Homo sapiens: one gene and its partners. The protein of the gene in region 3 interacts with the protein of the main gene of each other region in a pairwise test. Each region holds a gene or a part of one and is shown on either strand. Other genes may lie near its edges.

Evidence for each region.
Region 1: the proteins of CFAP53 (region 3) and SH2D4A interact in binary tests that used the Homo sapiens proteins (3 or more experiments, as listed by UniProt).
Region 2: the proteins of CFAP53 (region 3) and PARVG interact in binary tests that used the Homo sapiens proteins (3 or more experiments, as listed by UniProt).
Region 4: the proteins of CFAP53 (region 3) and HIP1 interact in binary tests that used the Homo sapiens proteins (3 or more experiments, as listed by UniProt).

The regions. Positions count from the first base shown.
Region 1 is NC_000008.11:19,392,131-19,396,718, forward strand, and holds the end of SH2D4A (SH2 domain-containing protein 4A), read left to right. Parts: intron 1-1,187; coding exon 1,188-1,411; intron 1,412-2,419; coding exon 2,420-2,512; 3' UTR 2,513-4,088; downstream 4,089-4,588. UniProt on the Homo sapiens protein: Inhibits estrogen-induced cell proliferation by competing with PLCG for binding to ESR1, blocking the effect of estrogen on PLCG and repressing estrogen-induced proliferation. May play a role in T-cell development and function.
Region 2 is NC_000022.11:44,197,239-44,205,800, forward strand, and holds part of PARVG (gamma-parvin), read left to right. Parts: intron 1-1,103; coding exon of another isoform or gene 1,104-1,127; exon of another isoform or gene 1,128-1,329; intron 1,330-1,382; coding exon 1,383-1,484; intron 1,485-8,518; coding exon 8,519-8,562. UniProt on the Homo sapiens protein: Plays a role with ILK in promoting the cell adhesion and spreading of leukocytes.
Region 3 is NC_000018.10:50,261,934-50,271,316, forward strand, and holds the start of CFAP53 (cilia- and flagella-associated protein 53), read right to left. Parts: upstream 4,563-9,383; 5' UTR 4,472-4,562; coding exon 4,403-4,471; intron 287-4,402; coding exon 57-286; intron 1-56. Other genes in the region: MBD1 (methyl-CpG-binding domain protein 1), read right to left, coding at 7,696-7,885. UniProt on the Homo sapiens protein: Microtubule inner protein (MIP) part of the dynein-decorated doublet microtubules (DMTs) in cilia axoneme, which is required for motile cilia beating.
Region 4 is NC_000007.14:75,727,943-75,736,504, reverse strand, and holds part of HIP1 (huntingtin-interacting protein 1), read left to right. Parts: intron 1-8,562. UniProt on the Homo sapiens protein: Plays a role in clathrin-mediated endocytosis and trafficking. Involved in regulating AMPA receptor trafficking in the central nervous system in an NMDA-dependent manner. Regulates presynaptic nerve terminal activity.

The DNA of each region.
Region 1 (4,588 bases), on a different chromosome or scaffold from region 3:
ACTAACTGGGGAAAAGGCTGGTCTGGAGTAAGAGTGTGAATTCCTGAGGCATCTAAGCTATGTCTATATATAACTTCATATGTGTATATAAAGACACACATATAGTTTTATTCCTTTAAATGCCAGTGTAGTGTCATTTAGCAATAGCTACAGGCTAAGGTACTTTATAGAACTGAGTAGAACTGAGTCTGACTTGGCTCTGTCACTAAATTACTGAGCCTCCCACACCAGGGAGTCTCAATTTCAGCACTACTGCTATCTGGGGCTGGATAATTCTCTGCAGTGTGGGGCTGTTCTGTGTCTCATAGGCTGTTTAGCAACATCCCTGACCTCTAACCCCATCCTCCATCCATGACAACCAAAGATGTCTCTCGGACACCTTTGTCCGAGTGGTTGAGAACCACTGTCCTAGACCAAGTCAAATCACTCCCCAGGCCATTGAGTCCTTGTTGGTAAACTGAGGTAGCCTAGGGAGAGTATCTTTAAATCCCCTCCCAGATCTAACATTCCCAGGATGACCATCAAGGCGTTCTGTTAGACCCTTATAAACCGTCTAACACCTGTGTGTTGCTCTAAATGGGTGTATAAGTAGAAATATATTCCTTTTTTTTTTGTTTTGTTTTTTGAGATGGAGTCTTGCTCTGTTGCCCAGGCTGGAGGGAGTGCAGTGGCATGATCTCGGCTCACTGCAAGCTCCGTTTCCTGGGTTCACACCATTCTCCTGCCTCAGCCTCCTGAGTAGCTGGGACTACAGGTGCTCGCCAAAACGCCCGGCTAATTTTTTGTATTTTTAGTAGACATGGGGTTTCACCGTATTAGTCAGGATGGTCTCGATCTCCTGACCTCGTGATCCACCCACCTCGGCCTCTCAAAGTGCTGGGATTACAGGCGTGAGCCACCACGCCTGGCCCAGAAATATATTCTTCTTTTAAGGTTGACATTTAAGCTCTCATGTATACCTCTATACATGATTTTTATACAGTTTGCCTCTATAACCTGTTCATGTCTAATTAGCAAATACCAGAAGAATATTCCGTATTCCTAAGAAGCCCAAAACAGACTTAAAATTGCTCTTATTGTGTCTTATTTAGGCGTCATTGACTCTATATCCATGCAGCTGGATTTAACAGAGGGGATTTTCTGGAATGATTTGGCTGAAATACCTGCCTTTTTTTGCTTTGCCACAGGAATTCTCACACTCAAGAAAGCAAATGAACTTCTTCTGAGCACAGGCATGCCCGGCAGTTTTCTCATCCGAGTCAGTGAAAGGATCAAAGGCTATGCCCTGTCCTATCTGTCGGAGGACGGCTGTAAACATTTCCTCATCGATGCCTCTGCAGACGCCTACAGCTTCCTGGGCGTGGACCAGCTACAGCATGCCACCTTGGCGGATTTGGTGGAATATCACAAGGTGAAGCAATGCATAAACTTAATTTGCCTTCTGAGTTACTGTCCTGTAGCAGCTCTAACAATGAATGACAATTACAAAGAAAAGGACTGAGACAAGTACTGGGGAGGGGACAGGGGTGGGGGCTTGTCTTTGATAATTCTTCCTGATAATCAGGATTGTTAATCACATTTCATTTATCTTAGAACCTAGTTCTTCCTTAAATACTCAGGGAACCCCACTGGGGCAGAGAATACGGGAAATGCTAAAACAAAAAAATAAAAGCTGTACCCACATGGATCACATATGACAGCAATCCCCAAACTTTGTGACACCAGTTTCCTGGATGACAATTTCTCCATGGACTCAGTGTTGGGGGATGGTTTCAGGATGATTTAAGCACATTACATTGATTGTGCATTTTATTATTACATTGTTATATATAATGAAATAATTATACAGTTCAACATAGTGTAGAATCAGTGGGAGCCCCGAACTTGTTTTCCTGCAACTAGACAGTCCCATCTGGAGGTGATGGGGGACTGTGACAGATCATCAGGCATTAGATTTTCCTAAGGAGCGCACAACTGAGATCCCTCCCATGCACAGTTCACAATAAGGTTTGTGTTCCTATGAAAATCTAATGCTGCTACTGATCTGACAGGAGGCAGAGCTCAGGCGATAATGTGAATGACAGGGAGCAGATGTAAATACAGATGAAGCTTCACTCCACTGCTCACCTCCTGCTATACAGCCCAGTTCTAACAGGCCACAGACTGGTACTGGTCCATGGCCCTGGGGTTGGGGACCCCTGACCTATGAGAATTCATAGGCCTTAAGTTAGAATTCAAGCCCTGAAGGGAAAGGAGTACCTGGTCACATGTAGATAAGAAAAATGCCTTTTAAGATGATCATAAACCACAAAAGCTTTGTGTAAATCATGGGTAGGCAGCTAGTGATGTCCTCTGAGGAAGTAGGAAGAGCATGTGGTCACTACTTACACTATCTGACCCCGTGCCTTCTGATTGACAGGAGGAACCCATCACTTCCCTGGGGAAGGAGCTCCTTCTCTATCCCTGTGGTCAGCAGGACCAGCTGCCTGACTACCTGGAGCTGTTTGAGTGACAGCCTCCATCAGGGTCATCCTACAGCCTCCAAGCGGGCTTTCCCCTGGACAAATGCCACTGCAACATTTATGTGTGAAGCCAAAATCACCCTGCAGCAGAGCCAATACTGATCAACTGAAAGTAAAGTATCCATGGAGTCCTCATTGACACCTCTTTTCTGCACAAATACTGGAATTCAATGTCAAGAGAAAATGACCTCTGCTCAAAAGGGAGAAGAGTCTCAATTTCAGCAAGTACCTGTCATGAAGGGTATGACCTTAATGATGTACATAAAATAAAACAAATGAAGAAATGGAAAACTTTTAGAAATTAAGGTGTACTTGAAAACGAATATCTATCATATGACCCCTGCACTCCCTCTGTATCATCTCAGGAGGTTTCAGGGGCCTGTTGACATGAAGTTTCGAAGTTTCATGTTGGCTTTGGAATGGTAGCAAAAGCCTTTCCTGGCTGAGATGATGCTTAAAACACACCTCACTTATTGTACATGTTGGAACCAGGACATGAGAGACATAGAAAAACAGAAGTCATGAATGTAAATTGAATGAGAGGCTTAACATGCATGAAAATACAGATGGACCTGCAGGAAAGTGAGCAAACATCGCTGAGTTTGTTTTCTTGTTCGGGAGAATGGGGCCGGGGCTGGCCTGGCCTCCCCTGGATATACTCTATAGTGCACCAAAAGGATAAAGCATCTGTACATGTATTTTTTTATTTTTTATCAGAAGTGCTTAGACAAGAACAGAATAAGCAGGCTGTTTGGATGCTACTTGTGGTTGAATTGTGTTCCCCCAAAATATATGGTGAAGTCTTAACCCCCATCCCCGTGAATGGGACCTTGTTTGGAAATAGGGTCTTTGCAGATATAGTCAAGATGAGGTCACATTGGATTAGGGTGGGCCCCAAATCCAATGACTGGCATCCTTAGGAGAAGAGAGAGTTTTGGTAATAGACACAAATGCAGTGGGAAGAAGACCAGGGGACAAGAGGCAAGTTGGAGTGATGCAGCCGGAAGGGAAGGGACACCAAGGATCTCCGGCCACCAGCAGAAGCCAGCAGAGAGGCATGGGACAGGTTCCCCACAAGCCTTAGAAGGAAGCATGGCCCTGACTTCAGAATTCCAGACTCCAGAACTGGAAGAATAAATGTCTGTTGTTTTAAGCTGCTTAGTTCATGCTGAGTTCATGCTGACTTGTTACTATAGCCCCAGAAAGCTAATACAGTCGTTTATGTAATTACATAACCTGACACACAAGATCGACCCATTCACTGCTGCCCAGTCCACCATTTTCATAATGAAGTAGAAATGGGAGGTAAGAAAAACATTCCAGCCAGTTCTGTTTAGCCCTGGCACACATATTTGTCCCGTCAGGAATCTTATGCCCTCCTGGAACCCCCGCCCACCTCAGTCCAGTCCCAGTCAGGCGAACGGCCTCTGGACAGGGACTGAGGTGGCTCTGAGCCACTGGAGATCATTTTTCTTGGAGGATGGAGATTGGCTAGTACCTCTGGCCTAACTGTGTAGGTCAATACTCTTTTACATTGCCTTCTAATAAAAGCAGAATGATACAGCAGTGTTGTTACAAGCTTGTTGGTTGCGTACAGCACTCATTGACTATAAAATGTAGCCAGAGAAGGGGATGGTTGGCATGTGTGTTCTAATGAGAAAGATGATGGTGATTATTATTTTTAGAGACAGAGTCTTGTTCTGACACCCTGGCTGGCATGCAGTAGTGCGATCACAGCTCACTTCAGCCTCAAGCGATCCTCCTGCCTCAAACCCCCAAAGTGCTAGGATTATAGATGTGAGATACTATGCCAGGTAGAGATAGCTTTTAAACATAGATCATTGTTTAACTCTTTCTTGAAATGTTCCATGTGGTTTATATTGTTAAACTATTGTAAGGATCCATCTCTTGGCTTTTGTTCCTATGATTCAACAGTCATGGCATTATTGAGAAACTTCTCAACTCTTCCTACCATTTTCTGTATAATCTTGGACAGGACAGTTTGTCTCTGAGCCTCAGTTTTTGCTTCTGAACAAAAAAAAATATGATTCAACTGGGTGATCTTT
Region 2 (8,562 bases), on a different chromosome or scaffold from region 3:
AGGGGTTAATGTACTCCCATGCCTAGTAGCTAAAACCAATAAAGCCCTCACTATGTGCCAGTCCCAGGGCAAAATGCTTTCCATGTTAACTCATTGAATCCTCTCCATAATCCTCTGAAGTGGGAACTGTACTACCCCACTTACAGAGGAGGATGTTAAGGCACAGAGAGGTTAATTAACTTGTCTAAAGTCACACAGTGATAAGTAGTGGACCTGGGATTTGAACCCAGGCAGCTGGGGCCAGAGTTAGTGCTTATAACCACCTCACATGGTGGCCACGTGAGAAGTTTGTGTGTGATATGGTGTGGCAGCATGGCAGGGTGGAAGTATCACGCTCTGTAGCCAGACAGACACACATTTCCCTCCTGCCTCCACCACTTATGGGCCCTGGGGTCTGCTGAGAACCCTCCACATTTGCTGTGTGACCTTGGGTGAGTTACTGGACTTCTCTGAACCTCAGGCTCTTCTTCTTATAAAGTGGGTACAAGATAGCAACTTGGTAGAATTGTGAGTGATACATGAGCTGGTGAGCCCCACGTGTTTGGTATATTACCTGGCACGCTGCCGGCATGAAATAAGTGAGAGATTTGTAGTTTTATTATATTTTATGTGGGTATAAACAGGATGATTTCTGAGATTTACATTCTACCTGTTCTATCTGTATCTCTCCCTTGGTAAAATAATGGGTTTCAGAGACTCATGGCATGTGCAAAGGTGGTATTTAGAGACTGTTCAATAAAATGGGGTAAGGAAGTCCCTTGCATTTCAGTTGTATTACCAAGGAATAGCAGCAGAAAAGATTTCAGGCCCAAACTAATAACATCGAAGCAGACTTAATATGAGGAAATTCCATTAAGGGCTTCGAATGGCAGTTCCTTCCAATATCCCATCCTGTGTTTTGTATCTTTGAAGAGTCTCAATAGGATTATATTAACATATGATATGCTGGTGGCAGGGACGACAGCTTTATCTCTGAACATACAGACAGAACAGACAGAAATATTAATGTGGCAGCCAGCGAGATGAGCCTGGTGTGCTGCTCTCTGCCTTTCTCTGATGGAATAATTTTACACTTAACTCTGTTTTCCCCTGTGTTTCTGTAGCTTGTGGAAGAGCGTGCTGTTTAAAAACTGATATGAGGCTTTTCTGCAGTAAGTTTAGAAAGCACTCTTTTCACTGAGCATGTACTATATACCAGGCAGCCTGAAACCACTTTTTACCTGCAACCCTGTGAGGTCAGGCATGTCTTCCCCACTTCTCATCAAGGCACCAGAGGCTCAGAGAAGTTGTATGACTTCCTTAGGGCCACACAGCCTGTAAAAGACAGAGTGGGCTTCGCCAGGCTTCTTCCATGTGATTGTCTCCAGTTCCTTCCTTTGTAGTTTGCAGATGGGGTCATCTTACTCTTGCTGATTGGACAACTTGAAGGCTTCTTCCTGCACTTAAAGGAATTCTACCTCACTCCCAACTCTCCTGCAGAAATGGTAAGTTTTCCAAGGATTTTTCTTTATGGTCTACCTCTAGGTGAACAGATATACAGAACTGGCATGACCAGTCTGTTTATTCACTTCCAGGTGAAGTGAAGGGTGTAGGGGAAGCTTATTTGTCTATATGTCTGCCTATCCATCCATCCATCCATCCATCCACCTATTCACCTATCCATCCATCTACCCATCCATCCATCTACCCATCCATCCATCCACCCACCCATCCATCCATCCATCCATCCATCCATCCATCCATCCATCCATCATCTACCTATCTATCCATCCCCATCTACCCATTATCTACCTACCTGACCGCCTATTAGCCCTCCTGTTCACCTACCAAGCCACCCACCATCTATGCACCCATCCATTTAACTGCCTACCTGTCCATCCACCTAACTGCCTACCTGTCCATCCACCTACCTGCCTGTCCATGCACCTATCTTCCTGTCTGTTTATTCATCTACCCAGTCCATCCATCCATCCATCCACCCACCTACCTGCCTGCCTGTCTACCCACCCATAGGAAGTTTATCTATATGTCTGTCTGTCCATCCATTCATTCATCCATCCACTTGCCTACCGGTCCATTCACCTGCTTGTCCTGTCATGCATCCATCTGTTTGTCCTTCAATCCATCTTCCTGTTCTGTTTATTGATCCACCCAATTTACCCATACACTTGCCTGCCCATCCACCCACCTGCTCATCCACCCATCCCCTACCCACACGCCTGTTCCCCCATTCCCTGAGGGCCTGTTTAGTGCCAGGCCCTGAACTGCATGGGATGTTAAGTTGATCCAACATAGCTCTTGCTTTCAGGGAGCTCTCAGTCTGTGCCCACTGTTCTCCTAGTGACGTGTGGTCTTGCAGGGCCACAGTGAAACGTGTTGGTTCAGATGCCTGGGTCAGAGGAGGGGCCTGGAAGAATGAGGGCTTAGAATAATCTCAAGGAGTCAGGAAGGGCATTGCATCAGAGGGGAGCCGGGAAGTTGATCAGGGATTGGTTTGCAGAGTTATCAAGGAAGGGCTTGCAGAGGGGAGGGAATAGCATCAGCAAAGGCTCAGAATGTGGCAAGAACAGGAATGGGTCAGGGAGGTGTAGGTGCTTCACTCTGGCTAGAGGGGCTGGAAGGGTGGGGCCTGACCTGGGGGGATCAGCAGTTCCCACGTGGACCCTAGAGGCTGGTGGACTGGCTGGGAGCTGGCTGCCTGCTTCCAGGCATGAGGGCTGTGGCTTGACCTGGGGAAGAGGGATGAAGAGAGTGATGGAGGTGGGGTGAGAGGGCAGGTGAGCCTGCAAAGATGCAGCTCCCACCGCCTCTTCCCCAGGTACAGCCTTCAGTGCCCGCTGGCTAGTCCTGCCTCCGCCCCCGCCAGGCCCCTGTGGTGTGTGCCACCACTTCCTCCAGCTCCCTGGGCTCTCCCATCTCTGGGCTTTGCCACAAGCTGTTCCCTTCCCAGGAGCACCCTTCCTACCAGGTAGGCCTGGCCCATGAGAAGGGATTTTACTACTTTCCAAATAAGGAAAGAGAGGTCCACGGGCAGCCAAGGCTTACCCCGGGTCACTGCCAGGCAAGAGGCCTGAGTCTTGTGCTCTTCGCCACCAGCTCCCTGCCTGCCTGGACCTCAGGTTTTCTGTCTCTGAAAATGGGCTGACAATCCCTGCCCCCTACTCAGGCCACACAGGTAGTAAGAAAGAGTTTGGAGAACCATCGAGGAGAAAGCATTGAGGGACATGTGGTCCCTAGTATCCCCAGGCTTGCCTCTCACAGGAGGTGACATTGGAGGCGTGCATCCCAAAGGACAGGCTGGAGTGTTGGTGGCTGGTGGCGTGCCCAGGATCCCGGGCAGCCAGCTTATCTCCATCCATGCCAGGGTTCCCGTGGCCTGGGGCAGGAGGACCTCTTTATCTCTCTGCAGCAGTAGCTTTTTCTAAAGAGGTGAAGCAGGAGGCAGGGCCACATGCCCCGTCCCAGGGCCAGCCTCTGGGGCTGTTTCTGGGAGAGACAAAGGCTTCCATCCCTTTCACATGCTCAGGGCGTCCTTGGCCCTGGATCAGGCCTCTTGGCCTATCTGGGGCCCAGTAGCAGGTGAGGTCCCCCCTGGACCCCTACCAGACTCCCCCTCCACCTAGGCCCTTCTTCTAGGCCGCTCCCCTTAACCTTCCTGGACACCCACCCTTGTGCCTCTCCCCTGCTTCAAGTGGAGCACCCAACTGCCAAGCCCCATCTGCCTCCCCGACCACGTCCCCTCCTCCCTTCCTGCCGACTCCCAGCCACAGCCACAGCCACAGCCACATGACCTCTGGCCCCCTTCCAGCTCTCCAGGGCCTGGTCCTCCCCCATTCCCTCACATCCACGCAGGCTGTGCTCTCAGCCCAGCCTACCCTGGCTTTGCTTCCCACCTGCTTCCCTGGGCGGGCGGCCAGCTCTGCCCACCTTCTCAGCTCCTCTGCAGTCCCTCGGCGCTCTGTGGGGCCCTGTACCACAGTCCACACTCCCTTGGGGTTAGCTCCCTGCACTTTGCCTCTCCTGGCCCTCTCCCCACTCACCCTCCCTCCTTGCCCCTGTGAGAGCGGGGCAGGGCTGCATCTCCATTTTACAGAGGGGAGCCCAGGGCCCGAGAGGCTTACCCAGTACCACCCAGCTGCTCAATGGCAGCCTCACACCAGCACAGCCTGCCGCCCGCAGCCTGCCATGTCCCTCGCCCCCACGGGGATGCATCTTGAGTGGGTGTGGCCTCCACCTTCCCTGGAGGCCAGGTGCTCTGGACTTGGTTCCCAAGAGCTGGGATGTTGGGTCAGAGCAACGAGGCCGGGGCAGTCAGTGTCTACGGTCCTGGTGGTTGTGGCAGGCACGGTGCCTGCTGCTTCCTAGGTTCTTCCATTCGGAGGAGCTGCATCAGCCAGCCATTGCCACAAACGTGCTGCTTAACAAACCACCCGAAAACCTAGGGGCTGAAAACCATGCTCATTTCTTCCCACAGACCGGCAGGTCGGCTGAGTTTAGCTGCTAGAGGCTCAGCTAGGCTTTGTCACTCCTCCGAGGACTGGATAGGGATCAGGCTGTCGTGGCTGGGTGGCTCGGCTCTGTGCCACAGCCTGCCATGTTCCTTCTGGGACCAGCAGCTGGCCCGGGCACGCTTTCCTCCTGGCAATGGCAGACACATGAGAGACCAGGCAGAAGGCATGAGGCCCTGGCTCAGAATGGGCAGGCTGCCACTTCCATCGAAGCAGGCCCTGTGGCCTTGACAGTGACATGGGACAGCCCTGCAAAGTGTGTGGGTGCAGAATTGGGCCGATGGTGGGATCTCCCACGGGCAGTGTGGACGAATGTGCTAGCAAATCCTCATGTTGGGTCTTGGAGTTAGGAACTCTTCCCATCCCCACTTCCACAGAGGAAACAGTTGAGAGAGGCACAGAAGTCTGGCCCAGAGCACACAGTGAGTTAGGGTCCTCCCTGTTTCCCTCCTGTGGAGCCAATGTGAGTCTCTGGGAGATGGAGGGGTGGCAGGGCTCAGTGGGGTTGAAGCCAAGGCTGAGACTGGGGTCAGAGCCTGCCTCGGGAAGGCAAGGCACTGAAATGTGAGCGGTGAGGAGAGAAGGCGGAGGAAGGGGGCAGGCAGGACCACCTGCGGGCTGAGGGCCTGGGGCTCGGAACCCAGCTCAGAGCCACTCTGGGGTGCCCCTGGGCTGCAGGGCCTCTGCTCAATCTGTTGCACCATCCAAGCCCCAGTTACAAGACGGGAACAAACGTGCAGACTTCCATGTTGCTGTGTGCAGCCGCTTTGCTGAATCCACTGATTTTAGAACTTACTTCTGAATATGAGTCAGATTAGATGTGGGGGAAAAGCAGCAGCCTCTTAGCTCAGACTCCAAGAATGAATTTTTACAGCATATTGTGGGCAATCTCTGCTGCAGGAATGTGTAATCAAAATGCTGAAGAGGTCGTCAGCTGAGGAGGGCGGGAACACCAGCCCTTGCTGAAGGTGGGCCTCTGCGGAATTGTTATCTTGGCAGAGTAGCCTCTTGAAATTGGATTTCTCATTATCAGACCCTCTTTGCTGATGGTGTTTATGTGAGATAGTTATTCATTGTGGGCACGGAAGTTAAGGATGGAGGGAGAGAGGATCATTCGCTCCCAGAAATAAAATCCCCGGAGCCAGGAATCCTTGGCGTCCTTCCACGTTAAATTACTTTCCCCAGGAGGATTTGCACGTATCCTCCCGGGTTGTAACCTTCTCTCAGCTCCGTGGAAGGTGGTAGTTTTATCTTCATCTCAAGCCACACGCGGAAGAAAAATCTCTGGACAGAGCATCATGAGATAGCTCTGGAGCCAGGGTCAGCTCTTACTGGGGGATGATCTTTTGTTCAGATTGAGTGTCATTGAGGAAGAGTGTGACAAACAGAAGCAGATGTCATAATTTTCAGTGTCGATAGCAATTCCCAAAGCATAAGCTCTATGAGGGCAGGAGGTCTGGTCTGTTTTGAGCACTGGTTGTATGGCTAGCACATAGTAGATGACAAGTATTTTTTTAAATAAGTGAATGAACGAAGTGTTTCCAAAACATTGGTCCCAGGAGGTGTTCTGTGACAAATGGGTTCTATGAATAAATAACTTGGGGAAACATGTCTAGTCTTGAAGGTTCATGCGGCCCACCAACACATTCAAGGCTCTAATAAGTCCTGCAGTGAAGGACTTCCATAGTATTTTATTTAATCCAACAATTTCTAAAAACGTTTGGCCACAGATATCCCCTTTCCTGTCCATCTTAGATCACAGTTTGGGAGATGCTGGCTCGCTGAATGTATCAAAGGCGGAGCTTTGAGGCAGGAGAGCACAGTGCGGAGTCTGGAACCTCAGGTTCCTCAGGGTCTTGTTCTCACTCCGACATTTACTCTCCATGTAACTGCAAATAATATTCGTGATGAGAATGCGAACAATAGCAACAATTGCAACCCTAGTTTCCCAGAATATTCCAGTCTAGGAGGAAGAACTGGGGACACAGTGATGGGAACTTCCGGTGATGCTCTGGTCTGTCCACTCGGAGCTTCCCATCCATCTTGGTCTGGACAGTCTCAGAGTTTCACCCCGCATTGGCCCCTGCAGCATGCTGCAACATTGGTGCCGTGTGATAGCCTTTGTTTCGCTCTTGTCACCCAGGATGGAGTGCAGTGGTGCAATCTTGGCTCACTGCAACCTCCGCCTCCTGGGTTCAAGCAATTCTCCTGCCTCAGCCTCCCAAGTAGCTGGGATTACAGGCACGTGCCACCACACCCAGCTAATTTTTGTATTTTTAGTAGAGACAGGGTTTCACCATGTTGGCCAGGCTGGTCTCGAACTCCTGACCTCAGGTGATCTGCCCACTTTGGCCTCTCAAAGTGCTGGGATTACAGGAATGAGCCACCGTGCCTAGCCTGTTTCTTCTTGTTGGCTGACTACAGAGGAGCGGCCCTGCTGCTGCTGCTGGGCACCCTGCCCATACACTCCTTTCCATCTGGGACCCGCCCTCCATCTTCATGTCCCCACGTGGAGAAGGACTCTGCTCACCCACTTCCAGCTCCTATGCCTTCATCATCCTCACCTTCAAATCTTGCTTTGTGGCTTCAATTCTGTGTCCGTCATCACATTGGACGCACATGGCAGCCTTGGAGAGGAAGGCAGACAGGTGTATCATCCCCGTGACACAGATGAGGCACCTGAGGCCCAGCCAGGATGTGTGACTTGTCCGAGGTCAGACACTTAGTGGCAGGGATGGGGGTGGCAGTACACAGACATCCAAGCTAGATCCCAAGAGTCCTCTTGCTCGGGCCATCCAGCAGGTGGCTGGAGGTGGCCTGGGCCAGGCTGGCGTTTCTGGATGAGTCTTGCCTGGCCTTGCTCATCCACCGCTCGGCCAACCTGGCCTCTTGGCCCCTGGCGGGTTGCCATGGGAACTGCCCTGTCCTGGTGGGGCTGGTGTGGCCAGGCAGATAGGGAGGGAACGGGACCAGCACAGCTGACCCCCGGGCTGGGATGTCCACCCCGTCTAGTGGATCTACGGGTGGCTAAGACATTGAAGGGAGGACCTGTTTGAGGTCACAGTGAACCAGGAGTTCATCCCTCTTCACCCACACCAGGCTGCTGCCCTAAGGCAAAGGGCTGGGACCTACTCTGCTTGTAGACGAGGCCCAAGGGAGAAGCTAGAATGGAAAGGGAGGGGACCTACTGTGGGAGGGCCGGCAGGCTCCTGGGCTCTCACCATATCCTGTAGCAAGGCACAGGGGAACTGTGGTGAGCCCACTTTGCAGGGGAGCAAGGGGAGGCCCTGGGCAGGGACTAAGCTGAGCTCTGAATCACTGGGGGACTTGACTGATGCCCGGGCGCTCTCCACCCTAAAGGGAGCCATCTCTGAGACTGCACCCCAGGCAAGGGGTGGCGGAAAGGACAGCCACCTGGGTGGGGACCGCTCCAGTCTCTAGCCTGCTTTGCATGAGCATTGGAGCGGACAGACCTGGTTTGAGCGCTTTCTGTCTCGTGAGCTCCAGTGAGCCCCTTGGCTCCTCTGAGCCTTGATTTCCTCACTGTGCTTTGCCCTGGGAAACAGCTGTTCTCAAAGGTGCTCTGCCACCCCAGGCCCTTGCTCCTTTCCCTGGGTAGTTCTCCCTGCCTGGCGGGACTCACCACCAGGCTTCACCTCCACCAGGAAGCCTTCCCTGATCCCTATTGGGTATCCTCCTTGGCGATTGCCTTTTTCACGGGCAGTGGCCCCTGGACGCAAGCGTGTGCCCAGTGTGGTATAGCACCTGCTCAGAGTGGGGCCTGTGAGTGGCTGAGGAATGAGACATGGATTGCTTGTGTGACAGAGTGAGCTGTAGGGAGATGCTGGATGACCACGGATTGTGGTCGTGGTCAGGGATGCCCACCTTGGATGGGAGTTTAGGCTCATGATGGACATCACAGACAACAGGAAGGGCTTGGCACTTGGGACCCAAGGCCTGGCCTGGGGCTGCTGCTTGTGCCCACATCTGATAGGGCCTTGTCATCATAGCTGCACAACGTCACCCTGGCGCTGGAGCTGCTGAAGGACGAGGG
Region 3 (9,383 bases):
CAAATTGTGGTTTTAGGAATATTTCATGGTTTATGTCCCAGGTTTGTGAGCCTTACTTATTTCGTCTTTCTTCAATGTTAATGATAAACCCTTGCACAGCATCCTTGATTCTTGCTCGCACAAGGCTGTCCAAAATCTTGCAGTCATTGTGCTGGTCCCACTCAGCTTTCAAGCGATCCCGCTCACTTGACTTAATGGAAGCCAAAATAGCATTATGCTTCTGATGGCTGCGTCGGATTCTTTCTAGATGGTGCTCAGCTCCTTGGCCTTTAGGAGGCTTGGATCTCTGAAAACAAAAACCAACTATCACTTATAATAAGCCAAAGAATCAACTGCATATTTTCAATTAGTTATGCTCTCAATCAATACTCATACTAAATAAAATTGGGTATAAAAAACTAATACATCCTACTACAACTGAATACAGCTTATGCACCTAAAGAGTAACTTGTTTCATTCTCTGAGCCTATACCTAAGATGTCATCAAAACAGTCTCAAATATTTCTAATGTGCCATTTGAAAAATAGTTGATGGAAATTACAAAGTTAAAAATGTGAACAGGACTCTGTTGAGATTGTCTAGTCAAACCCAGAGACATTAAGTGATTTGCTGAACTTGCTTCAAATAGGGCAGATAAAACAAGAATTAGAGGTCTTCTAATTCCCGACCTTGACATTGCCACTCATTATTCCACATTATTTCTCACGGTTGGACACCATAGTTATCACATCAAAATACTTTCAATGAAAAGGTGCTACTATGCGAATATATAGAAAAAATATACATGTGTGTATATACATGTATATGTGTGTGTGTATATATATGTGTATATGTATATGGATATATAACGAGTTGTGATAATGAAAGATCTTTGACTAAGAAGGAAGAAATGAAGTGAGGGAGGAAGAGAGGAGGGAAAAGAAAAAAAGCTGGTGGTAGAACTTTATTCCTATTTCTATGGTGCCCAGAAGTTTTAATGCAAAGAGTGTGTTCCTGACCTTTTGGGCTACTTTGAATTTCTATAAATGTACTGTTTTTACAGAAATGTCCACTAAAAAAGTTAGAAATGCATGTACCATTTGAATATATATAGATACACTTAATGAAATCACATAGCCTATATCTTTTTCCTTTCTGTATTCCTAGCATTGAACATAATGCCTACTACAGTGAGGTCCTCAATAGAAATGAATGAATGAATGAGTGAATGAATGAAACAATGTTGCTGGGTGGGCTTGATGCAATTTCTGCACCTCCTGGAGCCACCATAAAATCCATAGTCTTGAGCTTTGTATTTTCAGGAACAGTTTTATCAAGTCATCCTTAGGTAAGTTGTGAGATACTGGGGTGCTGATTCACAGAAACAAAACTCTTAAGAGACAGAGAGTCAATCTGATCTTTTACATTTAGAATATCACCATCAGGATTACCAGAATACTAGGGTTAGGTGTTTGTAATGAAGTCTCCTGAGGAAAGAAAATCAACATTTGAAGACAGTTTAATGAAAAGATTCAGGGCTCAGGGTACACATATAGGTACCTAGATTTAGCTGAACAAGATAAGGCAAGCCTGGGGTGGTAAGGAGACAGAAGATGATGCTGGGGGTTATATCATGGAAAGTAGCTAATCCATGTCATAATTATCTGGAGCCTAGAGCCAGCTAATTAGATGACTGTTCTCCAATACAGTTGGCATTTTATGAATATAGATCTGTGAAAATAAAGCAGAGGAGGATCACAGTGGCACCCTTGGCAGCATACACAGCAGGAATTAAGGGTCCCAGTGTGAGCTGAGAACAGGAATGAAACACCAAGTAAATCTAGAAACACTGGCTCCAGTTGTCAGGACAGGAAACAGGGCTGAGGGATATTTTGGCTGAAGAGGTGACAAATACCATGAGCAGTACCCAAGGGGTCAGGAAGCCTTTTAAGGCTTGGGAATCATGTGAAGGACTCTGGTCTGGGAAGGACCCAATCTCTTGATAAGTTAGGGGTATGACCTGGAGTTCTCAAAAAAGGTGATGCCAATCCCAGCACAGTCGTGGTATTGTTCAAAGTCTGTACTGTTCAATATAAATATAATGCAAAACAGATATGTAATTCTAAATTTTCAAGTGGCTGCATTTAAAAAAGTAAAAAGAAACAGGGGAAGTTAATTTTGATAGTATATTTTATTTAACCAATATATCCAAGATGTTATCTTGTCAATATGTGACTCTAGGCACATTTCAAGTGCTCAAATGCTATGTGTGACTAGTGGCTACCTATTGGACATCACAGCTCTAAACCATGCTAAAGTCAGGAAAACACAGGATATTTTACTAACTACTGTGGGTTTTCAAGGTCACTGAAGGCTGTTATTGTAGCATCTCCAGTTATAGTTATTAGGATTACAATTTACAGTTCGGTTGTCTTAAAGAACAATGCTTTACATCCTAGGTTTGATTCTGGCCTCTGTCCATTACTAATTGAATGGAGCAAGTTACTTAATCTCTTTGAATCTTAGTTTTCTCACCTGTCAAATGAGCAAAATAAGTATCCTCCTAATGGATTCCTAGGAGACACTCATCAAATAGCTGCTCCTTTTGATGTCCCATTACTTCAGACATTAAATTTTTCACAGGTTTCTCCTGGGGAATTGTTTAGGGTCCAAGTCTCATCTGCTGGTGGCTTTAATTCTTGCAACACAATTCTGCTACCTCTAACATCTATCTTTCTTATCACACTCAGACACCGGAGGAGCAGATGCACCAACTCTAACCTCCTCCTTTTCCTCTTAATTCTTCTTAGGTGCAAAGTATTCAATAAGCCCGCTTCTCTGGTTTAGTGTTTTTGTTTGTTTTCTGTTCCTTATTGGTTCCCAACACAAGTAATAGCACCCAACAATGGCTCAGCCCCTGAGCCCAGTGTTTGGATACAGAACCCAAAGTAGATCTTCTGTCCTTCATGAAGTGTGTTTATAATTATCACCTTGAACCCTACAGCCTACTTATGTGTCCCATCTACTGCTTTCCAGCTCCAGATCTTACAGTACTTGGACCTAAAGAAGGAGCAGGTCTATAGGTTGACTGAAGTTTGCTATGTGCACTGTGGAGCATAATAAAACTGTATCACTGATCTTTCATCCATCAACTGACATCACAGACAATATAGCACATCATTATTTACCGTGCTAACCTTTAGTGGTTTCATTCTACCTAAGTTTTTTTTTGCAATTGGATTACAAGTTGAGCACCCCTAATTTGAAAATCTGAAATCTGAAATGCTCCAAAATCTGAAGCTTTTTGAGCACCCACATGATGACATAAGTGGAAAATTTCACACCTGACCTCATGTAAGGGGTCACAGTCAAAACACAAGCAAACAACACATATTTATTCAGCATCCCCAAGGGGAAAATAAAATTACCTTCGAGGTAATGAAATATAAATAAATTCTGTGTTTAGACTTGGGTCCCCTCCCCAAGATATTGCATTATGTATATGCAAGTATTCCAAAATCCAAAAAAAAAATCTGAAATCCTAGACATCTCTGGTCCCAAGCATTTCAGATAAGGGATACTTGACTTGTATAAGCTCCTTGAAGGGAGGGCTCAGGCTTCAATAAAGAGTTAACCTTCCAGGATCATTGTATCCACCCCTGTATCTCCCACAATACTGCGCACACAGCAGGGGCTCAAGCAATAACTCTGCCTACATGTTAGTTTTCTGGTGGGTAGAAACTAATTTGTAGAAACAAAAAAATCTACATGTATGGACCAATAGTGTCTGAGGTTCTCAGCAGGAACCATCAAATTCTGCAGCAAGCACATTTTCCTGGCCTACTACCACTCCAGCCTTAGAGGCAGGCACCTGAGTTTTTCCCAGGTCTGAAGGGACACTTCTGTCCAGCAATGGTTACTGGTTGAGTTGGCACAGGAAAGGCGTTGGGTGCTATAACCACTCACAACCTAATTCCCCTTCCTCAGACGATTTTCCTAGGAGTGAAAGACCAGCTCCAAATCATAGGCCCGCCCTGCCCCCAGATCTGTCTCTGGGCCGGGTGCCCTTTCCATAACACACACTCGCCACTGCATGGGGGACAGACATCCTTCCGGTGTCTTGGAGACTGAAAAACCCTAAGATCCCTAGTGGTGATTCTCCAAAAACAGAACCTAAATATTATAACTTTGGGGGCAGATGAAAGGCTGTAAGGATGAAAACAGAGGGAGATGAGTGGGTGAGAGGTGGGGTAGATAGGTGAGCGACCTTATCTTCCTTCTTTCAAAATTCAACCCACTGCATCAGGCGACACCCGTTCCCCTCGAGAAGGCCCCGGGTGGGGGCCGAAGTGGGATAGGCCAGGCCTGGAGTGCGGAGAGATGGAGAAAGCTGTAGGGTCTGGCAGACATATCCTGTGCTTACCACGATCACCACTTTGGGGGTGGGGCCCTTAACCTCCCGCTGTACGGTGCCAAACCGCTGGCTGTACATTTTCGAGTCCCCTTCGGGACGGGGGCGGCGTCCGCCGCGTTTCCCCCAACCGTGGCGACCTGCGGGACCCGCTTCCGCGACGCAGAAGTCTGGTTGCCATGGTGCGCCTCGCGGGATTAGGGGCCGGTAGAGGTGGGCGGGTCGGGCGGAAGTCGGTCTGGTCACCATGGGGGCCGCAGACGCCTGCACTCGGGACTTCCTCTTCCAGCTGAGAAGCTGAGCCTGCGCAGTCCTCACCCCGCCCCTCGGCCAAATCCCGCCGACCTTGCTCCCTTCCTCCAGGGTTCATCAGAATGGCAGAAAAAACCTCTAGCCCAAGAAAAATCAAAGCTCTAATTACAATTCCAGTTGACTTTGCTATTTATATCTTGTAATGGTCTAAAAGTATGAAAAAGGTTAGCGAACATTTTTTGGGAAGCTTAAATTTTGCACTATCTGTAGGTTAATCTTGATGACGGTAATAATCACAGGAAAACCTTATATTTGTGTAGTTCTTTACAATTTCCAAGATATTTTCACACACACAGCCTTTTAACCTCACAGATTTTTTCTGAGACAAGGTCTCGCTCTGTCGCCCAGGGTGGAGTGCAGTGGCGTGATCATGGCTCCCTGCAGCCTCGTCCTCCTGGGCCTCAGCCTCCAGAGTATCTGGGACTACAAAGCCTGCGCCACCACGCCCTGCTAATTTAAAAACAAATTTTGAAGAGACAGGGGGTCCCGCTATGTTGCTCAGGCTGGAACTCCTGCTCCTGGGTTCAAGCGATCCTCCCCACTGCCCCTCCCGCCGGCCTCCCAAAGTGTTGGAATTACAGGGTGCGCTACCGCGCGTGGCCGCAAATATCTTACAGGGTTGATAGAATAGCAAGTAATACTATCCTTATTTTCCAGCTAAGGCAAAGCTCAGGGAGCCTAAGTGCCTTGTCAAACCAAATAACCAGTAATAATAATAATTTTTTAAAACCTGTTAATAAAATCTTCCTATTTGCCATTGGCAGAAACCAGGGCTTAGACTCAGGATATCCTAGGATGGGGGCAGATCAAATGGACTAGTGGGGCAGTGGCACGACCTGGTGGAGCATAATTAAGAGTCTGAGGGTCACAGTGGACCAGGGTCAGGATGTGGATCAGAAGTCCAGTAACTGGTTTCTGAGAATCAGGATCCAGGCAGAACAGGAAACACAAATCAGGGAACCAGGACGGACCTGCAGCACAGGTGGTAACCACAGTTGCATTTCCAGTCAAGAGCAAGGTGGTAATACCTAAAAGCCAATTAAGAATGACACTGTGATACTCCCATTCTAAAGTGGGGGTGAGCATAGAACACTTGTGAGCACATGCAACAAATCAGTACCTACGTCAAACTGACATATAATAAGTACAACTAATGTGTATGCCCTCTTAAGGACGCAATTTACTGTAAATTAGCATTCCTTAATCATTTGTAAACCACCCACTTCGGATTTTGTATGTGGTATGTTTCTAAATACGAATTCCATTTCCTGAATTGCTGGTTCAGCTTTTCAGCCACGAAATAATGTTTTTCTTCTCTTTTAATAATTCTGTCATTTTGTGTTCTTTTCTATAACGGTTCTTTCAATTGCAGTTCAGTAAAATACGCATTTGCATTTACTAAGAGTTTACGTGGCCTGAAACAGAAAACAAACAAATTAGGTGGTCGTCTCGGTTTCCTGGAGTGTCCAGAGGGGCGGTTCTTTGATCTTCGAGTCCAACGGGCTCCGGGCCCGCCCGTCGGTCCGGGCGGAACCACCCCCACCACACATCCTCCGGGAAGGCGGCAATGAAAACGCCTTGGGCCCGAAGTACGGCTTGGGAAAATCGGCGCAGATTCGGGGCCGCCCGTTGGGGATTCCCAAGGTTGTGCAGCCCAAAGGGCCTCGTCGGAATTTCTGAGGCGATGGGGTAAACCGACCCTTGGCGACACCCGGCCGCACTCGAACGTCCTAGGTCGTCGAGCCCCGCCCTCACCCTGGGCGAGCTCCGAAATTTAACCCCGGTTCGGTTTTGCCTGTTTTACCACTATTTGAAGAGGGGGACTCAGCTTCCCTCTGGCCCTAGCCCAAGTACTGGGGTTTGCGCCGGACGGAGACCACGCCCCAGGGCGGCCAGGCCAGGGGTGATGGGTGACGAGCGGTGCCTCCAGGGCCCCGGTGGGTGACTGTGGCTGGGAACTACGGGCTTTCTCGCCCCGGCGCCCCCTGGCGGACCCACCAGCAGGTTGAAGGTGTCCGGCCAGTGCTGAGCACCAAGAGCCTCAGCCTTCAGCCAACCCCCCGCCCCCGCGGCCTAGGTAAGTGAATCGCTCAGGGTCCTTGGAAAGAAGTGACCTTGATTTGATCTTCCCACCCACTATCCCAGTTTCTCAGAGGCAGTCAACACTGTTCCCACCAAACCACTCCCAAAAGAAACACTAAGCATGTAAGTAAGTGGGACAATAAAAATTTAAAAATAATTTTAAAATAGAACAGCTTAGAGATAGAAACTAAATTATTTCCAATTCCTACTGTGCCCCAAACAAGGTTCACAAAAGGGCTGTCCTCCCAACAATTTTCTGAATTCTATATATTCAGCATTAAATTCCATGATAAAGTTGGAAATCCATTCACCATTTGTAATACATATTGATGCATTTAATAAAATTGCATGGGCCGTATCTTTTGCATTTCTGTATCCTAGTATTAAGTACAGTGCCTACCACAGGCCAGGTTCTCAATACTTGAATAAATGACACAAAAATAGCCAGGACCAGCAAGTTTTTTCTGGGTGGGCTTCATAGAATCTCTGTACTTGCTGGAATCACCATGAAATCCATGGTCTTCAGCTTTGCATTTTCAGCCACATAGTTATATTGAGTTATCCTCAGGTGAGCAGTGAGACCCTTGGGAGCGGATTCATGGTAGGGTGGCTTTGTAATGTGTCACCTTGGTGAGGCTATGTTTCCCGGAACTCTCTTCCAGTAAGATGGGCCACAAGAGACATTTTGCTTGATAACCGGAGGGCGGAAGTGAAGCAGCAGCACATTGTTTTTACACTTGGAAGGTTGGTGCTGGGGCACCAGGCGTTGTTGCAGTTCACACGTTGCCATGTATCTGCTAGATCACCTCGTTGGTGTGGGCAGTAGTCAGGCCTGCAGCCAGGCCTGCAGCTGCTCCACCTTCCCCAGGATCATCCTTTCAGCTTCTCTAATTCCTGGGCCAGATGCATATTTAACTCTGTGAGGAAGGGCACCAGCTTCTTCTGCAGGACACCCACATCATCGAAGCTGGAGGTGGTGAGAGACTGACATGGGTTCCAGGCCATCCTCGTGGGTTCCAGCTCGTGCTCGTGGGCTCCACTGTGTCCTCGGTCTCCCACACTTTACATCCATCTTCCCTTCCCGAGTGCCTGCCCTGCAGACTTCAAGCTCCAGCATTAGATGCAAAGACAACAGCCTTACAGAGACTGTTTAACCAGCTCCCACAATGGCATGCGGTCAGATCCCTATAATAAATCCCTTAAAATACATATATACATAATCTTTATCTTAGTGGTTCTGCTCCTCTGATTGTACCCTAACATAAATGGTCAGCAGAAGCTTAACTCATGAGTCTAAATGTCAATCAAATAAATTTCATATAGATCATTGTCAAAATTACCAGAATACTGGGGTTGGGTGGTTGGTTCCTGGGGGAAACAAAGCAGTATCAGTCTATCCAGTCTTGACTAGGGCTGAACTAGTTAGGATGGAATAAAGGAAGGGGTGGGGAAGGTGGCAGAGGCTGGACTGTATGAGACAGAACTGGGAAATGGCTAATCCATGTCTGAATTACTTAAAGCTGCAGGGCTGGGACTAGGGTAAGGCAAGGGAGGCACACAGGATACAAAGTTTAAGGAGGCACTCACTCAGTCCTGGCCCTGTAAAGCTGGCTAACAAATTACAGGTCTAATCTTTTTGGCACTTTATGAATGAAGAATTGGGAGAGAGTGAGGTAGGGCTGAGCCAAGACTGGCTCTTGGGCAGGACTCGAAGCAGGAATTCAGCCTCCTAGAACACATTCAGGCTGAGGGCAGGAGCCAAGCACAAAGGTGATCACAGGGCAGGAGATGCACGTTGTCAGGAAAGATGAGCCAGGCTGGCAGCTTTAGTTACAAAGACTGCTCTGGCTGAAGAGGGGGAGTCAGGGTAACAAGCAAAATGGACAGCAGCCAGTGGGGAGATATATCCTGTAGGGTTTGAGGAATCCTATGCAGCACCTGGGGTCTGCAGGAAACCCAGTTTCTGTATGAACAGATGCTCTGACAAGGTGACCCCATCTACATTGAGCCTTGGCACTCCCTAAACCATGCTAGAGACAGGAATGTAAGGGATTTATTATAGTAATTATAGTAATCTGTGTTTTCAAGGTCACCGAAAACTCCTGTTAGTGCATACAGGATTACAGGTTACAGTTTAGTGGAGTAAAGAACAAGGGCTTTAAAAGCTGGGTTTGAGTCTAGGCTCTACTAACACCAGCTGTTCGACATTGGACAAATTAATGAGTCTCAGTTTTCCCATCCACATAAATGGACAAAATCAATGTCTTCCCAAAAATATTATTTTAAGGATTAAATAAACTGGGTCCACAGAGGAACACACCAAATAGCAGTTCCTTTCCTTATTTATTCAATTACATTTTCAATTGCTATCTCCCTGAGGAAGTATGTAGAGACACTGCCAGGTCTCATCCAGAAGCCACTTACAATTACTCATGAACATGGCTTGTTTAGGTTGTTTTGTGGTGGCTTTAATTATATTACCTTTCTCCAACCCAGCTCCCCCACCCTTAAAATCCAACTTCTTATACTCAGGCTCTTGGGGAGGAGAAGATGCACCAACTTTCTACTCTTTCTCTTCCTTTCCCGCTTACTTCTTCTA
Region 4 (8,562 bases), on a different chromosome or scaffold from region 3:
CGTCAAGTGATTCTTCTGCTTCTGCCTCCCAAAGTGCTGGGACTACAGGCATGAGCCATGGCACCCAGCCCTATTTTTTTTTTTAATAAATGAAATAAGAAAATAAATAGATATTATTTTTTAACAACCCGTTCCTTCTAGAGTCTCAAATAAGTAAAAACTAGAGCAATAGAGAAATATGCGTAAGACTTTGACCCATAATAGTGATAGAAATTAGGTTTGTGAAAGTTTCCACCCGTGAGTGGTATGTTTCCCTGCTATCCAGGGACGGCCCAACAGGAGAGTCTAGGTCAGTGTTTTCTGGTGTTTTACATTCTGTGGGACATTTGTGATTGGCCAGATTTGACCTGGGTGGGGTGGGTGGGGGTGAAGTAGAGTGGAGCAGAAAAAGAGAATTTTTCTGATGTTGAAACTCTTATTTTTAACTTTTTTTTTTTTTAAGACGGAGGTCTCACTGTGTTTTCCCAGGCTGGTCTTGAACTAGCCTCAAGCGATCTTCCCACCTCAGCCTCCCAAAGTGCTGGGATTTCAGGTGTGAGCCACTGCACCCAGCCTCTGGTGTTGAAACTCTTTAGGGGTGTAGGAGAGTAAAGAAAAAGAACCAGCCTGGACAACATAGTAAGACCCCATCTCTACAAAAAATAAAATTAGCTGGTTGTGGTATCACGTGCCTGTTGTCCCAGTAACTTTGGAGGTTGAGGTGGGAGGATTGCTTGAGCCCGGGAGGCAGAGGTTGCAGTGAGCAAAGATTGTGCCACTGCATTCCGGCCTGGGCAACAGAGTGAGACCCCATCTCAAATAAAAAAAAAAGAAAAAGAAAAAGAAAAGAAAAGAAAAGAGAACAGCCCTAAACCCAACGTTAGTCAATCTGCAAAAAAATTATTTTGTTTAATGACTACCTATCAAATGTATTATGAGGTTGCAGAGCTTGGTAAGCAAAGGGAAAAAAGGGGAAGAATGTATTATGAGATATAAAAAATGAATTAGAAAAAATTTAATGAGTTAGGAGACCATGAGAATCAGCCAAGGTATAATAATAACTAACTAATTATTGTGTTTGGCAGTATTCTAAGGACATCATTGTATTACCTTTTTAAATCTTGACAAGAACGGATGAGGTGGGTATCAGCCACATTTTACTCTCAGGACGATTGAGGCACAGAGAGGTTAAGTAACTCACCAGAAGTCACACAGCTGGAAACGGTCTCAACCTTTACCCACTGCCTCAGGCAGCCTCTGAGTACTGAGCAGATGCTGGCATTGGAGTTAGAAGGCATTTGAGGCTTACAGCTGGGCATGTACATGGGCCTTGTGGTCTCTGGGAAGTTGTCTAACCTTTCTAAGCCTCGGTTTCCTTATTGTCAAATAAACATAATACTTACCTGGCTGATTTATTGTGGGGATTCAATTAAGCCCAATATGCCTGAAGGCATTTTGTAAACTGTGGAGCACTAGTTCAGTGATTATTGTTATAATCTGACTGGGGAGACGAACCCGAGACAGCAGAAGTGTGAGCAATCAAGCAGGCTGTGATTAACTCTTCCTTAGAGGGATAGATGTGGTACTAGGTAATGGGATAATTACCAAGAGCACGTGGATAAAGCACAGGCTTTGGGGTTGGGAGCCCTCCCCGAGGACTGAAGCACATCTTGTAGCATGAGTTAGTGCTTGCTGGGTGGAGGAGGGGATGGGGCATTCCAGTGACAGAAGAACATAAATAAAGAGACATCTAGACTAGGCAGATAAACTTCCCAGCGGGTGCAGTGGAGACTCATTGGCTGGGGTAGACAGAGAGGCAAAATTGGCCACTCCCTCCTCTGAACTATAGCAGGGCTGGTGACCTCTCCTAGTTCCTGTGACCTTGTGCTGGCATCATTTCTCTCTGTGGCCCCCATTGAACACTGAGCTTATTGAGGGCAGGTCTGTGTCTTGCTCTTGCCTGCATCCTGAAGCTCATGGTTAGTGGTGAATGGGGTCAGCAAGGGAACCCTGGGCCTAGGTGGGTAGTTCAGCCCTGGGCCACAGGATATATTAATAATTACTTTATTTATTTTTATGTAAGAGATGGTCTCGCTCTATTGTCCAGTCTGGAGTGCAGTGGCACCATCATAGCTCAGTTTTGCCTGGGACTCCTGGGCTCAAGTGATCCTCCTGCCTTAGCCTCCTGAGTGCTGGGACTACAGGAGCATGCCACCATGCTTAGCTGATCTTTAAAATTTATTTATTTATTTATTTATTTATTTATTTATTTATTTATTTGAGACAGAGTCTCACTCTGTTGCTCAGGCTGGAGTGCAGTGGCGCCATCTCGGTTCACTACAACCTTCGCCTCCTGGGTTCAAGTGATTCTCCTGCCTCGGCCTCTCGAGTAGCTGGGATTACAGGCGAGCGCCACCACGCCCGGCTAATTTTTTGTATTTTTAGTAGAGACAGGGTCTCACTTGTTGACCAGGCTGGCCTCGAACTCCTGACCTCAGGTGAGCCGCCTGCCTCAGCCTCCCAAAGTGCTGGGATTACAGGTATAAGCCATCGTTCCTGGCCTAGAATTTTTTTTGTAGAGATGGGGTCTTGCTGTGTTGCCCAGGCTGGTCTTGAACTCCTGGGCTCAAGCAGTCCTCCCGCCTTGGCTTCCCAAAGTGTTGGGATTACAGGTGTGAGCCGCCGTGCCCGGCCTATAATTACTTGTTTTCTTATAATGCTCCAGGGTCGCTGTTGGTCTAGCCTTGCCTCCCGCATACCCAGTCTAGAGCCTGGCCACATGCCCATCAAAAGACTCTCACTGCTCTGCCTGCCTTCTTCTGTCCTGGCGTCTATACCCTCAGACCAGCCTTGCATACCTACTCCTGCCAGCCTCCTCCAGGAAGCCTTGCCTCCTCAACTCTCCTGCACCATCCTCACATTTCACCTGGCCACTGTCACTGCCAGAGGAGGCACCACTGACCTGCCTCATGGCCCAGCCACTGCACCCATCTCCAACCAGACCCTTGGTGTGTTCCCCACCCAATCCATCACAAGCCACTTTCAAGCTTTAGGGAAGTGAAAAGTACTGCCTGCCCTCAAAAAAAAAAAAAAAAGAAAAAGAAAAGAAAGGAAAAGAAAAGAAAACCCAGCCGTAATAAGGAGACCTTATCAGGAGTACTTTACAGTTTATAAAGCATGTTTCTAGCCATCATTGGGACCACACGGTGGTCAGTCATTATCATTTTCATTTTATGGATGAGGACATCGTGACTCAAAGAGCTTGGTAACGTGCCCAGGGTCATCCCACGGGTGAGTGGAAGGGCCAGGATTCAAAACCAGGACTCCAGGTTCCAAGTGTCAGGCCCGTTCGACCACACTGTCCTCCCACCAGCCAAGAGGGCAATTCTGGAATCAGCCAGGAGGGCTGTCAATCACAGGACAAATAAAATAGTCTGTTTTTACTTAGCTGGAAAATGGTTTTCTCCATGGTTTGTTTATTTCTTCAACATCCGTTTAGTGAGCACATACCGTGGAGGAGACACAGAGATGAGTAAGATAAAGAGACCGGCTCTGGGGGGCTCGTGAGTCAGCAGGGAGGCAGACTGGCCACTGCGGGGCTCCTGGACAAGCCTTGGGGCTCTGATGTGGTCAGGCCCCGAAACACCAGCATCACCAGGGCCATTAGGATGTTGGGCACCACCCAGAACTACTGAATCAGGACTTGTCGTGTTCACCACAGCCCTGGGTACTCTGTGTACGCTGATGTTTGAGCAACAGTGCTCTGTAGTAGGTGAGTTCTGGGATTAGAGGAAAAGACACAGAGTGGGGAACAAACCTTTAGAGAGTCAAAATCTCTTTGGGTGAGCCGGGCGCAGTGGCTCATGTTTATCATCCCAGCATTTTGGGAGGCTGAGGCGGGAGGATGGCTTGAGCCCAGGAGTTCGAGACCAGCCTGGGCAACATAGCGAGACCCTGTCTCTACAAAAAAATCAAATCAAATCAAATAATTAGCTGGGCATGGTGGTGCTGCCTGTAGTCCCAGCTACTCGGCAGGCAGAGACAGGACGATTGTTTAAGCCCAGGAAGTTGAGGCGGCAGTGAGCCGTGATCACACCACTGCACTCCAGACTGGGTGACAGAGCCAGACCCTGTAAAAGGAAAAACAACACAAAAAAAGCCAGAAACAAACAAAAAAAGTCGGTGGATAGCGCATACGTCAGAGCAAAGGATCTTAATGCATCCTGCGTTGAGAAGAGCCTTAGATCCTAGAGAGAAAGAGATAGAAACAAATATTTATTGAGGGCCTGCTGGGTACCAGGAACATGCTGGGTGATTTATATCTATGATTTCATTTTAATAGCTCAGGCTCAGAGAGGCTAAGTGACTTGTCCAAGGTCACACAGCGAGTGAACCGAGAAGCCAGGACTTCACAACCAAATGGCAAAGTCCTTTTTTTCATGTTTACGTTGCGGGTACTTCTGCCCTCTTGCTCATGATCTTAAGCAGATGCTCAGCCTTAGTTCAGCAGCTAAAAAATTTTAGGGCTGGGCTAGAAGGATCTGCGGTTCTCAACCCTGGCTGGAGAGCTCTTTGAAAAAATAAAATACTGTTTCTCTGGGCCCCCTGCATAAGGATTCTGTCTCATTGGTATGGGGTGATCATTGACATTTTGTAAAGTCCCAGGTGGTTCTCATGTGCAATCAAGATGGTGACCGTGGGTCCTGATGGGTTCCCACACCCCTGGCACCCCACGGACTTTGGGTGGCTCAGTTGGTTCTGGTTATACTCAGAAAACCAAGATGGCCCTAAGCCTGCTTCCTGCAGGTAAGAAGCATCTGTGTCAGGTTTGTTCTTTAGGAATGCAAATGCTCAGAGCCAGGCTGTGTAGCACCCTGAGCCTTGAACCTGGCGCCCCACCCCTTCTGCTTCTGGAGCAGGTGCACAAAGAAGTCACCCCTTGCCTGAAGTCTGAGCAGGTGCCTTCTTGCAAGGAGAGCTGCTCGTGAACCCCATTTTTCCATTTACTTGACAATCAGAGCTGGCGTTTTTTTTTTTTTTTTTTTTTGAGTTGGAGTCTCTGTCACCCAGGCTGGAGTGCAATGGCGCCATCTCGGCTCACTACAATATGTGACTCCTGGGTTCAAGTGGTTCTCTCACCTCAGCTTCAGGAGTAGCTGGGATTATAGGCGTGCGCCACCATGCCCAGCTAATTTTTGTATTTTTAGTAGAGACGGGGTTTCATCATGTTGGCCAGGCTGGTCTCTAACTCCTGACCTCAAGTGATCCGCCCACCTTGGCCTCCCAAAGTGCTGGGATTACAGGCGGGAGCAACTGCGCCTGGCCCAGAACTGGCTTCTTAAACTTCTGTACCCTTCTATCTCCCCAACCTTGCTCCTTTAGTGGGTATTGAAAACTTAAGAAGGAAGTTAAGAGCTTTCTTTTGGTCCCTGGTTTTGTACTGTCCTGAGTTTCTTCCCAGTGATGGTAATGGTAATCGTCAACATTTACTGACCAGGCATGGTGGCTCATGCCTGTAATCCTGGCACTTTGGGAGGCTGAGGCGGGCGGATCACTTGAGGCCAGGAGTTCGAGACCATCCTGGCCAACACGGTGAAACCCATTCTCTACTAAAAATATAAAAATTAGCTGGGCGTGGTGGTGCATGCCTGTAATCCCAGCTACTCGGGAGGCTGAAGCAGGAGGATCGCTTGAACCCGGAAAGTGGGGAGGTTGCATTGAGCCGAGATCACACCACTGCACTCCAGCCTGGGCAACAGAGAAAGACCTTGTCTCAAAAAAAAAAAAAAAATTACTGCCCACATACTGTGTGCAAATGGTAAAGGCCTTACATGAGCCACCCTTTTCGATCCTTGCAACACATGTATGAATTATAATTCCTATTTTAGGCTGGACACGGTGGCTCACACTTGTAATCCCAGCACTTTGGGAGGCCGAGGCGGGTGGATCACCTGAGGTCAGGTGTTCAAGACCAGCCTGACCAACATGGAGAAACCCTGTCTCTGGTAAAAATACAAAATTAGCTGGGCGTGGTGGCGTGCGCCTGTAATCCCAGCTACTTGGGAGGCTGAGGCACGAGAATCACTTGAACTCGGGAGGCAGAGGTTGCAGTGAGCTGAGATCGCGCCATTGCACTCCAGCCTGGGCAACAAGAGCGAAACTCCGTCTCAAAAAAAAAAAAAAATCCTATTTTACAGAGGAGGAAATTGAGGCTTTCAGGGGTTGATAGCTATGCTCTCTGTTTGTCCTTCTGTCACTGCCTGGCACCCTCTGCTCTCTTCCTCCTTATGCTTGGGGTCCCCAAGGCGTTGTCCTCACCCCACTTCTCTTTTACCTCCTGTCCACTTCCTTTGCCCTCACCTCTGTCTGATGGTTTCTGTTCTCACTTCTGTGGCACTGACTCCCCACATCTCCCTCCTGACTTCCCAGCCTGAGTGACCACTTCCCACTGGACAACTGTACCCCCTCGGGCGGCCCCATGGCAGGACAATGGTCCCCACCTTCTCTCTGGTGTCAGTTCTGAGCCCTCCCTCCTTCCTGCCCTCACAGCCGCATTCTGTTGAGTGCCTCTGTGAGACTTGTCTCACCCATTCATCCTGTGAATCTTGCATTTCCTGCTCTTATTACATCTTGCCTGGATTTTTGTCATCTCATCCTGCCTGCCCTCTAAATCACCTGTTCTGGACAGTGTCCCTCAAATCCAACACTGTGATTTTTGTTTGTTTGTTTGTTTTGTTTTGAGACAGAGTATCGTTCTTGTCAACCAGACTGGAGTGCAGTAGCGCGATCTCGGCTCACTGCAACCTCTGCCTCCTGGGTTCAAGCTATTCTCCTGCCTCAGCCTCCTGAGTAGCTGGGATTACAGGCGCCTGCCACCATGCCCAGCTCATTTTTGTACTTTTAGAAGAGACTAGGTTTTGCCATGTTAGCCAGGCTGGTCTCGAACTCCTGACCTCAGGTGATCTGCCCACCTCAGCCTCCCAAAGTACTGGGAATACAGGCGTGAGCCATTGCGCCCGGCCGCTTTTTTGTTTTTTAAGAGATAGAGTCTTGCTGTGTTGCCCAGGCTGGAATGCAGTGATGCGATCATAGCTCACTGCAGCCTCGAATTCCTGGGCTCAAGTGATTCTCCCACCTCAGCCTCCTGAGCAGCTGGGACTACAGGTATGTGCTGCCACACCCAGCTAATTAATTTTTTTTTTTTTTTTTTTTTTTTTTTTGCAGAGACAAGATCTCACTACGTTGCCCAGGCTTGTCTCAAACTCCTGGCCTGAAGCGATCCTCTCGCCTCAGCCTCCCAAATTGTTGGGATTATTGAGTCACTGCACCTGGCCCAACAATGCTTCTTCTTTTTTTTTTTTTCCTGTTCTAGTTTCTTATTTTTATTCACTTGTTAGAATTTTGGTTTTTTTTTTTCTTCTGTTTCCTCTACACTTTTTTTCCTCAACTTTTAAGTTCAGATGGTACATGCGCAGGCTTGTTACATGGGTAAACTGCATGTCACTGAGTTTTGGGGTATGAATGATCCTGTCACCTAGGTAGTGAGCATAGTACCCCATAGGTAGTTTTTCACCCCACTTCCCCCCACCATACTCCCCCTTCACTGACAACTACTTTTATAACTGCCCTTTTTCAAAAACTTTTGCTGCCTTCTCTGAGACCCTGCCTGATATGGCACCATCAGGGTCCCTCGTCCCTGGTCCCTGGTCCCTGTCCTTTTTTTTTTTTTTTTTTTTTTGAGACAGAGTCTCGCTGTGTCTCCCAGGCTGGAGTGCAGAGACCCCATCTCTGAAAAAGAAGATTAAAAAAAATAAAAATAAAGGGTTGGTGCTGCACGTTAAGAAGGATGGGGCGTGTCCCTATGGCCCAGGAGATCAGATTCCCTGCCCCACTTGGGCACTGAAAGGGTTCCCCCTCTGGCACTTCTGCAAGGCACTGATGAAGACTGTTTTCTGCTCCCCATTCATTGGCCCACTTATTCCACTGCCTCAAGGCGAGGTGTGGCGGAGACCTGGGTGTGGCAGCGGGCACAGCCTTGTGCAGTGGGCTGGCAGCCAGCTCTCCTCCTGCATCAAGGAGGGTTGATGACCTGGAGAGATGCCCACCTGGGAAAGAGAACTTGTCAGCCCCACCTCCCGGCAGGGTGGTGGCTGTTTCCTGTTTTCCTGCCTGGGCAGCCAGGGAGGAGCTCTGTTCCCAGTGTGTGGGCAGGACTTGTGAGGGGAGAGGGACCGTGATTTAAGGTGTCTGCTGGCTCAGAGGAAGAGAGAATGGCATCTTTTCTTGGATCAGAAAGGTTGCTGCTGCTGCCTCTGCTAATACTGCCACAAGACAGCTCAGGAAGCCAGTGTGGCCTATGGCTTGTGTTTAACACAAGTAACACTATCGTTTAAAGGCATGTTGACACATTACTCCTTTGAAGCCACAGAGCAAGCATGCAGTAGATGGTTGTGGTCAGTTTTCAAATACAGACACTGAGGCTCAGAGAGATTAAAAGACTTGTTTGAGAGCACTCAGGAAGTGGCAGAACTGAGGTTTGAACCTGGCTTGTCTGGCCCCAAATTTTATACTTTCTTTCTGTAT